2 linked regions of the Homo sapiens genome follow. The protein of the gene in region 1 purifies or fractionates together with the protein of each later gene. This does not show direct contact. Each region holds a gene or a part of one and is shown in the gene's direction. Other genes may lie near its edges. The genes, in order: SEZ6 and LMF1.

Region 1 (3,812 bases):
GGACTCTCTTTAGAGGCCCCAACCGTGGGGAAAGGACAAGCCCCAGGCATCGAGGAGACAGATGGCGAGCTGACAGCAGCCCCCACACCTGAGCAGCCAGAACGAGGCGTCCACTTTGTCACAACAGCCCCCACCTTGAAGCTGCTCAACCACCACCCGCTGCTTGAGGAATTCCTACAAGAGGGGCTGGAAAAGGGAGATGAGGAGCTGAGGCCAGCACTGCCCTTCCAGCCTGACCCACCTGCACCCTTCACCCCAAGTCCCCTTCCCCGCCTGGCCAACCAGGACAGCCGCCCTGTCTTTACCAGCCCCACTCCAGCCATGGCTGCGGTACCCACTCAGCCCCAGTCCAAGGAGGGACCCTGGAGTCCGGAGTCAGAGTCCCCTATGCTTCGAATCACAGCTCCCCTACCTCCAGGGCCCAGCATGGCAGTGCCCACCCTAGGCCCAGGGGAGATAGCCAGCACTACACCCCCCAGCAGAGCCTGGACACCAACCCAAGAGGGTCCTGGAGACATGGGAAGGCCGTGGGTTGCAGAGGTTGTGTCCCAGGGCGCAGGGATCGGGATCCAGGGGACCATCACCTCCTCCACAGCTTCAGGAGATGATGAGGAGACCACCACTACCACCACCATCATCACCACCACCATCACCACAGTCCAGACACCAGGTCAGCTACCTGCTGGCTTGCAGATGTGGAAATGGGGATGGGGGAGGCTGCGGGGCCCCTAAAAGCCTGTCTCTGACACTGTGCCAGCCTGCCCTGCCCTTTGGCACCAAGGGCCAGCCTGCAGGAGGCATGTAGATTGGACCCAGATAGACCTGAGCTCAAATCCTGATTCTTCAGCCAAGTACAGTGGCTCATGCCTGTAATCCCAGCACTTTGGGAGGCAGAGGCCAGTGGATCATCTGAGGTCAGGAGTTCAAGACCCTCCTGGCCAACATGGCGAAACACCATCTCTACTAAAAATACAAAAATGAGCCGGGCATGGTGGTGGGCACCTGTAATCCCAGCTACTCGGGAGGCTGAGGCAGGAGAATCACTCAAACCTGGGAGGCAGAGGTTGCAGTGAGCTGAGATTGCACCATTGCACTCCAGCCTGGGCAACAGAGCGAGACTCTGTCTCAAAAAAGAAAAAATCTTGATTCTTCCAACTATAACATGACCCTAGGAATTCTATTTAACATCTCATCTCTGAGCCTCATCTGTAAAATGGCAATAAGAAAATAAACTTCTGGCTGGACACGGTGGCTCATGCCTGTAATCCCAGCACTTTGGGAGGCCGAGGCAGGTGGATCACCTGACATCAGAAGTTCAAGATTAGTCTGGCCAACATGGTGAAACCCCGTCTCTACTAAAAATACAAAAAATTGGCCGGGCGCGGTGGCTCATGCCTGTAATCCCAGCACTTTGGGAGGCTGAGGCGTGTGGAACGAGGTCAGGAGATCGAGACCACCCTTGCTAACACGGTGAAACCCCATCTCTACTAAAAAATACAAAAAATTAGCCGGGCGTAGTGGGGGGTGCCCGTAGTCCCAGCTACTCAGGAGGCTGAGGCAGGAGAATGGCGTGAACCCGGGAGTCAGAGCTTGCAGTGAGCCAAGATCATGTCACTGCACGCCAGCCTGGGTGACAGAGCGAGACTCTGTCTCAAAAAAAAAAAAAAATAGCCAGGCATGGTGGTGTACACCTGTAATCCTAGCTACTCGGGAAGCTGAGCAGGAGAATAGCTTGAACCCAGGAGGCAGAGGTTGCAGTGAGCTGAGATCACGCCATTGCACTTCAGCCTGAGCAACAAGAGTAAAACTCCGTCTCAAAAAAAAAAAAAAAAAGAAAGAAAACAAACCTCATTGAGCTACTGTGAAAACTGAGATAAGATTGCACATGTTAGGGGGCCGGGTGCAGTGGCTCACGCCTGTAATCCCAGCACTTTGGGAGGCTGAGGCGGGCGGATCATGAGGTCAGGAGATGGAGACTATCCTGGCTAACATGGTGAAACCCCATCTCTACTAAAAATACAAAAAAAAAAAAAAGATTGCACATGGTAGGTGCCTAATAAAAGGTGGTCCCCTTCCTTCAACAGGAGACTAGACATCACAAGAGGTGGTCTTCACCACACACACACACACACACACACACACACACACACACACACACACGGTTCAGCCTTAGTTGGACCACTTCACCAGAGCTGGCACTAGCTTTGTGTCTCCTCCTGCCTCCCAGGCCCTTGTAGCTGGAATTTCTCAGGCCCAGAGGGCTCTCTGGACTCCCCTACAGACCTCAGCTCCCCCACTGATGTTGGCCTGGACTGCTTCTTCTACATCTCTGTCTACCCTGGCTATGGCGTGGAAATCAAGGTGAGTGATCTGGATCTGGCAAGGGCAAAGCTGGGGCGGGTGTATTCTCTTTCTTCAGAGAGGCACATGCTATGAGAGGATGTGGGGATGATTAGGGGCATCAATTGTGGGGCATCGCCTAAGGCCAGGGCTGGGAGATGGGCCTAAATGGTTAGATTCTGCCCCGTGTGTTTGGCAATGGCCTAAGCCAAGAGGGGCTGTGGGAGGGGGCTCTAGCCTTGGATGGGCAGGGGACTGGGTGAGTATAAACCCTACATCTGAATCTATGGGCTAAGCAGAGAACACAGGGCTGCCTCGCTGGGCCTGAGAGAGTCATGGAGCTTCACTCATTCATTCATTCATTCAGCAAATCCTCTCTGAGCAGTTCCTCTGGGTCAGGTTCTGTGCTGGCTTCTGGGATGCAGAGGTGGGGGAAGACAGACCTGATTACACCATCAGAGAGGTGATCAGCTGATAGGAAAGTCAAATCTACAGGCCAGCCTCCTGTCCCCAGCCTCCCTGGGTTATCTCATCCCTCCGTTAGGATTAAGACTTTCTCTTAATCCCGAGGCCTGAGGCTACAGGTCCTCACAGATGTCCCACAGGCTCCTCAACCTCCACAAACCCAAATCTTCCTTTTGTTCCCCCAAAGCCACTCCTGTCCAGGTCAGAAACCTGGAGCAGAACCACCATAGTGCAATGTGGATGGTGTCCCTTAATGTGCAACATGGGGTCTCCTTAGCCTTTCCCTGTCCCTCTTCCCCCAGTCCCATCAATTCATCCCCAAATTCTGTCACCATGATACTCCCCTCTAAATCTCTCTGCTTCTCTCCCTCCATCCCCACAACCACATGTGGTTTAGACCCCACCATCCCTCCCCTGATGATGCAGTAGCTGCCTCACTGGTCACCCCGCCCACACTTGCTCCCTACTCTACCCATCTCCACCTCCACTGCAGTCATTTTTCTCAAATCAATCCTGCCCCCTACACCTCTCTAAGGGCTCCTGAATCAAGGTCAGTCTCTCTGGGTCCACCCCTAGACACTTCGTCCCTTGTTCTTTACCCCCACTTTGCACTAAACAGCTTGCAGCTAACTGAATGGGCCAAACCTTCTTTCCCAAGTCCCAGCTGCACATGCTGGTCCCTCTGCCTGGAAGAGTCATCCCATGATGCCTTCCCTTAGGACTTGGCCCTGGCATCACCCTCTCTGGGAATTCCCTCAGATCCCCAAAGCCTGGGGCATCCCCCATCTTAGCTCTTAGCAGTCTGCCTTCCATCCAACTGTTTACAGCTGTCCACCTCCCCAGCTAGACTGTGAGCTCCTTAAGGGGTGCCTTGTAGTGCAGAGCCCAGAATGGGTACTCCATGCGCTGACTGAATGATCGGACAAAGGGATGGAGGAAGGAAGGGATGTGATGACATTTGACTTGAATCTTGGAGACTGACCAGGAGTGGGCAAGAGAGGCATTCA
Region 2 (3,812 bases), on another chromosome or scaffold:
ACCGCGGGCCTGGGCGTTTCCATGTGCTGCCACCGAGGTGTGTAGGTGCTAGGGGTGTGCTCACTGCACACAGACGTGCATACCGCGGGCGTCCTGGGGTGTCGGGCATGCCCTGCTGTGCTGTGGGAGCCGGAGTGTGTTAGCGGAAAGCGGCATTTTCACAGGGCTCAGAGTTGAAGACACACCTGTCTTCCTGACGTGTGGACTCGGGTCCCTAGTGTGATTACTGCGTTGAGCAGATGCTGAAGTAGCACCCTGCCCGGTGCTGACCTCCTGGTGACAACGCCACTACCCCCAGTGGACAGCGAGGAAGCAGGGTCAGCCACTGGCCCGGCTGTGCAGCGATTGTCCGTAGGCCCTGGAGTTCAGCCCTGCCCTTCATTCACGCCACTGTGCAGCCTGCGTATCCTGGACACCCGGTTCACATCTGGGCAGCGGCGTTCTCGGGCCGTGACGGCTCCTGGGAGGACCGAGGCTGCCCGAGGTGGTCGGGGATGCCTGACACTGACACTGAGCTTCCCCTCAGCACAGATGTCACTCCCAGGAATGGCTGAAATCTGGACGAGTAAAAGCTTATGTGACAGGAGTTTCCGGCCTAAGCAGCGGGACCTGGGTGCCATGTTCTTGGTGTGTAGGGGCAGTGCCGGCCGCCCATGGGTGCCGGTGCCTCCTGCAGTCAGGCCTGCTGCTGTCTGTGTGCGCAATAAGGAAACCGAACCCAAGAGTGGGCACCATGCCCAGGCTCACCGGAACAGAGGGCAGAGCAGCCTGGCCAGAATCCCTCACTGTTTTATGGCAGGAACCCCCAGGGTCGTGCGTCGACGTTGTGGCCCGGCGTTCCCTGCGGAAGATTGAGGCCCTCACTGGTCAACCCTGCAGTACGGGGGCGTGTGTGGCAAACAGCTGGTCTGGAGCCTCGTCAGCCAGGCCGGCTCCTTGATGCTTTGAAATCCCCCTCCCAGGGGGCCTGGCCAGGTCCGTCCATGGGCGGCCACAGGCAGCTGGGGCTGGACTCCTGGAATTTCCAGCAGCCCTGTGTCTGTTACAGCGCCAGTGGTAGAGCTGGATTCCCTGACAAGACGGGGGAAGGACAGCCTTGCAGGTGCTACTGAAGACACCCTAGGCTAGAGCTGCCCACCCTGGGTGGGTTCTCCTGGACTGAACTGACGTTGGTTTGCTATTGATGAGAGTCACATAGTATATGTACACAATGCATTTTAACTGCCTCAGAATTAAGGTGTTATCTGGAAACAGTGTAATTACAGTTGGTCAGAATTGGGTTGATAGCAGTTCACTGCAGAGAACTTTCTGGAAGCTGTGACAGGTGGAAGTAGTGGGGCTCAGGGTTGGTGGGCCACACCTTAGCTGTGTGGCCTTGGCCAAGTTGCTCATCAAGACCTTCCTGTCACTGATGAGGTGAGAGTGACCGCTGGGCCGTCCTGAGGCTGACATGGGATTCCTTGCCTGTGCACACTTCCCAGAAGGCGGACCAAGGACACACCCGCCTGGGAGACGGCTCGCAGGCAGCCACGGAGTATATATATCTGAACGTCGGAAAGGACCTTTCCTTTGAAGCTCAAACATTTATGAGATATTGTTACAATTCGGAAGGGATCTGTAGGTGAAATGTGACATGAAGACTGGGTAACGTTGGCATTTGCAGACTGACTTTATGTGTGGCACTTTTCGTGGGTGCCATGGCGTCGGCGCAGAGACACTCCTGAGGGATTTCGTCTGTCGGTCCATGTGTTTGTGGGGGCCGAGTCCTGGACAGGCCTAGGAGGGAACCGCCCCGGCCAGGGCCGGCTGCTCGGCGCCTGCACAGGGCATGAGTGCTGGGGGCTTTGGGACACACGCTCCCTGCTGCCTCTGGGGCAGATGTCCACCTGCACTGCTTGCAGTGAGAGGCTGGGGCCCCAGTGGACGAGCCGTGGTGCCTGAACTGCTCCCGCTGTGTCCCCGCCACGTGAGGCATCTCTTCCTGACCGTGGTCCTGAGACCACCTGGCCTCTGCCTTCCCAGGGTTAACTGTACTTGTTCTCTCCGTGGCTGCCGACACCCTTCTGGCCTTCAGACTTAGCCCTCATCACTCGTGGACTCCTGACCCCACCCAGGGCTGACCACCGGAGCCCTGCTCTCTGCTTCCTTTGCGGCTGATATTGTCCCCATTCCAGTGTTGTTCTTGTGCCTGTCTCCCCTCTAGCTCCTTGCAGTCAGGGAGAGGACTTTCTTTATACCTCTATCCCTTGTCTTCTAGGGGCATCTCCTGCTCAGTGAAATGTGCTGACCCGTAGCAGGTGGTCTCTACCAGGGCTTAGTGTCAGCATGGGACACTTTTCCAGCCATTACCCCTTCTTTCCCCTCTACCCACCTCCAGCCCCGAGGTGCGGCCCAGCAGGACAGATACTGCCACAGCCCTCCCTTGGTTGTGTTCATACTTCCTGGGCTGCTCATGCCTTCCTGTTTGCTGGTGGATTCTCTTTTTGCTGGAGTGTATCCCCAAGCAGCTTTTCCAGAAAGGACCAACTTGCCCGGATCTCTAATTCTCCATCAAAGCCACTTTCCCTCAGAGCTTTGCAGCATTGAGGAGGCATCTTCAAGCATCTGACTCTTCTTCTCCCTGGAAGCTTCTAAAGTCTCAGTGCCTTGCCCTCCTGCTCTCCACCTTTGCTCTCTGTTCTGGTTATTTATCGAGGAGTCTCTGAGGCTCTTTTTTTTGCTCTCTTGTAGTGGCCTTGGTGAGCTCTTCAGCCTCAAGGCTTGTCCTTGGCTCTGGATGAGGCTCTTCTGGCCTCTCCCCAATCTGCCCATGTGTTCCAAACACCGCATGCCCCAGCTGGGTTCCAAACAGGGCGGGTGGGGGCCACTCTCCTGTCTAGCTTCGTAGCGTGGGCTGAAACCTGGGAAAGTCTCTCCATGAAGCTGAATGGAGAAGAACATGGCTTCCGCGAGGCCCTAGGAGCCAAGCACCACACAGAACCCACCGCTTGGCTGTGATCCCGAGTGACGGGGACAGCCTGGACTGCAGAAGGAATGCCCAACGCTGGCGGGAACGGAGGGGCTTTTCTTGCTCGTCTTTCCAGTTCCACATTGTCACATTGGAGTCCTGGGCTCACTGAGATTATGTTGAAAATCCGACCTCTAGGGGATCTCCATGCTAGTTTTGTCCTTTAGGCGTGGAGGCATGCGTGCCGCACTGTGGCGTCTGTTCTGTGCGCCTGCTCACCGCCCTTCCTTCTTTTCCGCGTGGGGCAGTTTTATCGCGTCTCCCCGGCAGCTGCTTCGGCGAGGTGGGGCCGCGGTGCCATTGGTAGCGTGTCTCTGAGTCTCACCGCAGCCCTTGTAGCTTGGCATCCTCGTCAGATGACACCCGAGGCAGGGTTGACGTGGCAGGCAGAATCGTTTGCACCCGTATTTGCTAAACTCTCAGCTGTTCTTCAGAAAATTTGAGGAGAAAATGAAACCAAAAAGAATACTTGAAACCCTGCTCAGTTGGTTTTGTTCTGAGCTTTCAGTGGCTCTAAGAGCTCATGGGAAATGAGTTCTTTTTCTTTTCTCCGGGCCACTTGAGTTCTAATGAAATGCACCACTTGGTTTTACAAGTTCTTCTATAAAATACTTGCTTGTTTAAAAAGCAAACAGCACTGCCCTACTTCGGAGCTCTGCAGCACATCCCTTAAAGAAAAAATACTTGAGGTCACTGTGCTGAGGCCCAGAATTTAACCACGGCCAGTAAGAACCATCAACAGAGAACGGCATTTCTGGGATGACTGTTTTAATCTTACAACAATTTATCTGAAAGGAGAAAAGAG

Evidence for each region.
Region 2: the proteins of SEZ6 (region 1) and LMF1 purify together in Homo sapiens (affinity purification with mass spectrometry; one large-scale study listed by BioGRID and IntAct). This does not show direct contact.

Annotation. Positions count from the first base shown.
Region 1 is NC_000017.11:28,978,229-28,982,040, reverse strand, and holds part of SEZ6 (seizure protein 6 homolog isoform 1 precursor), read left to right. Parts: intron 1-1; coding exon 2-670; intron 671-2,227; coding exon 2,228-2,361; intron 2,362-3,812. UniProt on the Homo sapiens protein: May play a role in cell-cell recognition and in neuronal membrane signaling. Seems to be important for the achievement of the necessary balance between dendrite elongation and branching during the elaboration of a complex dendritic arbor.
Region 2 is NC_000016.10:964,340-968,151, reverse strand, and holds part of LMF1 (lipase maturation factor 1), read left to right. Parts: intron 1-3,812. UniProt on the Homo sapiens protein: Involved in the maturation of specific proteins in the endoplasmic reticulum. Required for maturation and transport of active lipoprotein lipase (LPL) through the secretory pathway. Each LMF1 molecule chaperones 50 or more molecules of LPL.